Linked DNA regions of Homo sapiens: region 1 is linked to region 2. Evidence: fine-mapped expression QTL. Tissue or cell type: cerebellar hemisphere. Region 2 holds a variant in brackets; the other region holds the start of a gene. All regions are shown on one strand. Distances are from middle to middle.

The links. PIP is the estimated chance that this variant, and not a neighbour inherited with it, causes the effect.
Region 1: it holds the start of RMND5B, and the variant in region 2 is fine-mapped to the expression of RMND5B in cerebellar hemisphere (GTEx, PIP above 0.99).

Annotation. Positions count from the first base shown.
Region 1 is chr5:178,129,718-178,132,402 of GRCh38, forward strand. It overlaps RMND5B (required for meiotic nuclear division 5 homolog B), which reads left to right and starts at 1,297. Exons shown (of 11, transcript NM_022762.5): 1 at 1,297-1,337; 2 at 1,520-1,659. RefSeq lists enhancers at 1-470, 471-1,122, 2,401-2,685 and a silencer at 854-1,443.
Region 2 is chr5:178,647,756-178,650,440 of GRCh38, forward strand. No RefSeq gene overlaps it. Among named protein-coding and RNA genes, the nearest start is that of CLK4, 22 kb to the left of the region's middle. The variant C/T (reference allele first, on the strand shown) is at 1,324.

The DNA of each region.
Region 1 (2,685 bases), 520 kb before region 2:
GGAGTGCAATGGCGCGATCTCGGCTCACTGCAACCTCCGCCTCTCGGGTTCAAACGATTCTCCTGCCTCAGTCTCCCGAGTAGCTAGGATCATGGGACTACAGGCGCCTGCCACCATTCCCGGCTAATTTTTGTATTTTTAGTACAGACGGGGTTTCACCATATTGGACAGGCTGGTCTCGAACTCCTGACCTTATGTTCCGCCCGCCTCAGCCTCCCAAAGTGCTGGGATTACAGGCGTGAGCCGCCCGGCCCGGAGTTTTCTATTCTTTTTTTTTGAGACGGAGTCTCGCTCTGTCGCCCAGGCTGGAGTGCAGTGGCGCCGTCTCGGCTCACTCCGAGCTCCGCCTCCCGGGTTCACGACATTCTCCTGCCTCAGCCTCCCGAGTGGCTGGGACTACAGGCGCCCCCCACCTCGCCCGGCCAATTTTTTGTATTTTTAGTAGAGACGGGGTTTCACCGTGTTAGCCAGGATGGTCTCGATCTCCTGACCTCCTGATCCGCCCGCCTCGGCCTCCCAAAGTGCTGGGATTACAGGCGTGAGCCGCCGCGCCCGGCCTGGAGTTTTCTTTTTTTTTTTAAGCATCACTTCATATTTCAAGAGCTCTCAGTTCTCCTGAGATTTCTAGGCTCTGTCCAGGATCCCTAAGCCTGTTCACAGTCCTACTTGAAGTTTCTAATCTTTCTTTTCTCATTAACCAAAACTGGAGAGAGGAAAAAGCCCATCATTTTCCCTGGACAGCAGCGCCTACTGGGAGTTTCACCCGCATTAACATGCAAACGACAGGCAAACTCCTAGTCATCCTTCCAAAGACCCTGCTCCACAGCCCTGCCGAGGCCGGTGCGCACCTAGCCCAGCCACTGCCCCTCACGGCCCCCGCGCCGCCCTCACTGAGCAGGGCGGGCAGCGCTGTAAGCGTAACCACTTGGGGCTTGGGGCTTCTGACCCGGGAGTCGGGTGCTGGGTTGAGTGCGAGGCCGACGCCTCTGCCGGGTGGGGAACCCGCCCGCCGGCGAGGAGCGGTCGCGGCCAGGGGCTTCCGCCGACTGGGAGGCCCGGGGCCGGGCCGGAGGGACTCGGAACCTGGAAACGACCAGGCGCGACCCCCAGAGGACTACAGGCGCGGCTTTTCTGGCCGCCGCCCGGTTCCCGCGGGCGACTCCACTCGGCATGCGCGGCGGGGAGCCTCGGCGGTGAGGCGCAAAGCCGCGGGCTCGTGGGACGGCCACCCCTCCGCAAAACCGCCAATGGGCGGGCCCGGGCCGCCGATCGCCCGCCGCGGCTTCCGGTTCCGATGACAGTGGCGCCGGAAGCCGGGGCCGGGGCTGCGGGGCGAGGTGAGAGCGGGCGGGCTTGGGAGCCGGCAGGTGCGGGCCGAGGGCGGGCACAGCGGCCGGCGGAGCTGAGGCGCGCGGCGGGGAAAGCTCGGCCGGCCTCCCGGGCCCCAGCCTTCTCCAGAACCCCTGCTACCCACGACTAAGCCCCGAACAATCTGCCCTTGGGCTTGTTCTCTTCGCAGTTGTCGGCCCTGGGCCGGGAGCTGGAGTCCCAGACTCATAGGTCCCGGCCCAGCCCCCGAAGAGCCGCCTCAGCCGGGGGGAGTTGCTCGGACTCAAACGTCCAGTCCTCGTGCGACCGCGCTGGGTCGGAAGTGAGCAGGTGCGCACCGGGCTCGGCAGGGCTATGGAGCAGGGTCTTTGGAAGGATGACTAGGAGTTTGCCTGTCGTTTGCATGTTAATGCGGGTGAAACTCCCAGTAGGCGCTGCTGTCCAGGGAAAATGATGGGCTTTTTCCTCCCTCCAGTTTTGGTTAATGAGAAAAGAAAGATTAGAAACTTCAAGTAGGACTGTATAGTAAAAAAAAAAAAAAAATGGAGGAGGGCGATATGACACGGTAACTGGTGTGAGGGTGGGGCGGAGGGGTCAGTATTAGATACTGTGGTCTAGCAGAGCATCTCTGAGGACGGGACATTTGCGTTGAGACCCAAATTAGGAGGCAGGCTTAGGAAGATACGGGAAGAGAGTGGTCCAGGCAGCGGGAACAGCCAGTGTGAAGGCCCTAGGGCAGAAATCAACTGAGAGTATAGTCAAGGAACAGAAAGCAAGCTAGTGTGGCTAAAGTATGGTAAGAAAGGGAAAGAGTGGTAGGAGATGAGGTCGGATAATTGGGGTTTGGTCACATAGAGTCTGTAGGTCAGAGAGAGGAATGTGGAGTTTTTTCTAAGTACAGTGGAAATCTTTTGGTTTTAAGCAGAGGAGTGACATGTAGGGTAGAGAGTGGATGGAGGTCGCGGCTGCAAAAGCATAAGAATTGGCTGGGCACGGTGGTTCACGCCCGTAATTCCAGCACTTTGGGAGGCTGAGACTGGCAGACGGCTTGAGCTCAGCACTTCAAGACCAACCTGGCCAACATGGTGAAACCCTGTCGCTCCAAAAAATTAGGCTGGGCGCAGTGGCTCACGCTTGTAACCCCAGCACTTTGGGAGGCCAAGGCGGGAGGATCACTTGAGGCCAGGAGTTCAAGACCAGCCTGGCCAACATGGTGAAACCCCGTCTCTACTAAAAATACAAAATTTAGCCGGGTGTGGTGGCAGGTGTCTGTAATTCCAGCTACTTGGGAGGCTGAGGCAGGAGAATCGCTTGAAACTGGGAAGCAAAGGTTGCAATGAGCCAAGATCGTGCCAC
Region 2 (2,685 bases):
TTATTTATTTATTTATTGAGATGGAGTTTTGCTCTTGACACCCAGCTGTAGTGCAATGGCACGATCTCAGCTCACTGCACCCTCTGCCTCCTGGGTTCAAGTGATTCTCCTGCCTCAGCCTCCCTAGTAGGTGGGATTACAGGCACCCGCCGCCACGCCTGGCTAATTTTTGTATTTTTAGTAGAGAGGAGGTTTCACCATGTTGGTCAGGCTGGTCTCAAACTGCTGACCTCAAGTGATCCGCCAGCCTTGGCCTCCCAAAGTGCTGGGATATCAGGCGTGAGCCACCGCGCCTGGCCCATCTACTTATTTTTAACTGATACTTGAAAGAAGGAATCATTATTACTAATTATAGTATACAATATTTTCTGTGCATCTTAGTCATAGACACTTTATTGATATTGGATTGAACTTTTCATTGAGTTTCTATGAAGGATAGTGTGAAGTGGAATGGGGACTAAGACCTGGGAAGTGTCTACATTCAAGGGTCTTCCATGTGGGTGCTGGTGAGAGGCACAGGGGTGAACAGGGTTAGCAGGGTCACAGCAGAGCAAGAACAGGGCTGAGGACGAAGCCCTGGGAGCAACAGAATTTGTGGGGTGGAAATAAGAGTCCGTGAAGGAGGCCAGAAAGTCAGGAAGGGAATGCCAGAGAGGAGCAGACCTCAGGAGCTGCATAAGGGAGGGAACTGAATTGCATCAAGAGTGGTGTGAAAAGCTAAAGGAAGACTATGTTAGATAGGAAATAAGAAGATAGTGATTTAAAAAATTAGGAAGTCCATTAGCTCAGTATGCCTGTAGTCCCGGCTACTCAGGGGGCTGGGGTGGAAGGATTGCTTGAGCCCAGGAGGTCGAGGCTGCAGTGAGCTGTTACTGTGCCACTGCACTCCAGTCTGGGTGACAGAGTGAGATGCCATCTCTACTTTAAAAAAAAAATTAGAAAGTCCCTAGTTATCAGGGAAATGCAAATTTAAACCACAACGAGCTACAATTTTCCCTCCCCGACTAGAACGGTTAGAATGAAAATTAGATAATATCAAGCGTTGGCAAAATACAGTGAAATTAGGCCAGGCGCAGTGGCTCATGCCTATAATCCCAGCACTTTGGGAGGCCGAGGCGGGCGGATCACGAGGTCAGGAGATCGAGACCATCCTGGCTAACACGGTGAAACTCCATCTCTACTAAAAATACAAAACCTTAGCCAGGCGTGGTGGCGGGCGCCTGTAGTCCCAGCTACTCGGGAGGCTGAGGCAGGAGAATGGTGTGAACCCGAGAGGGGGAGCCTGTAGTGAGCCGAAATCACGCCACTGCACTCCAGTCTGGG[C/T]GACAAGAGTGAGACTCTGTCTCAAAAAAAAAAAATGTAGCGAAATTAGACCCTCCACACATGGATAAGAATGTAAAGCAGTGCAGCCACTTTAGAAAAGTCTGGCAGTTGCTCAAATGATTAAACAGTTATCATATGACCCAGCAATTCCACTCCTGTTATATACCCAAGAGAATTGAAAACATGTTCACAAAAAACGTATACATGAATGTTCATAACAGCACTATTCATTATAGTCCAAAAGTGTAACAATCCAAATGTGCATCAATGGATGAATGGATAAACAAAATGTGGTCTTTCCACACAGTGGAATATTATTCAGCCATAAAAAGGAATGACGTGCTGACACATGCCACAGCATGGATGGACTTGGAAAACATTAAGCCGAGTGGATGAAGCCAGTCACAAAAGGCCATACATGGTATGATTCCATTCATATGAAAGTACAGAGCAGGGAAATCTACAGTGAAGGAAAGCGGATTAGCGGTTGTTTAGGGTCAGGGGAGGAGGATGGGAGTATGGGGAGTGAAAGCTAAAGGGTGTGGGGTTCCTTTTTGTGGTGAGAGAAACATGCTAGAGACCATTGAATTGTGAACTTCACATTGGTGAAGTGTATGGTATATGAAACATACAGCTCAGTGAAGCTGTTTAAAAAATTAGGAAGTCACCAGTAGCTTTGAGGAAGCATTTTTAATCAAGTACGAGTGATGAGGCCAGGATCCTGGGTGTGGTATGTTGAGGGTGATTGGGAGTTGCAAAGTGATGAAGGGGAAGCAATGCTGAGAGGTTATTTCAGGTTTGAGAAGATGTGAGGCTGCTTGGAGAGCAAGAGGAGGTAACCTGTCAGTGGAGAGGAAGGGGGTCGTCAGGGAGACAGTGACGGTTGATGGAGACAGGGCCAAAGGACATTCTTAGGGGAGGCACAGGTGGCAAGTGGAGCTTTTGAAGAGGAGAGAGGCCAGTTTCCCCCTAAAACACGAGGGAAAGAAAGAAGAATCCTGAGAGCTCATCGAAAACAGGAACCACATCAGATTTGTTTTTGTAATCTCCGCATCTATCTCAATTAATGGGAAATATACATTTATTCATTCACTAAACATTTAATGAGGGCAGACTGTGCCAGGCACTACTTCCCTGGCTAGTGATCCCACAGCAGCCCTCACAGACAAAACCAGCACACAGGCTGTGGAAGAGTTGTTAGTATTCACCAAACGTCCATGAGTGCCTCTATTTCCCAGCTTTCCTTGCAGTGAGGCTGAATCCACATGACTAGTTCTGGCCAATGGCCTGTGGGTGCATCACTTTCAGGTTGAGGCAATAAAGAGCCAGTGTTTGGCCTCCTTTTCTCCTCTTCTGCTATGG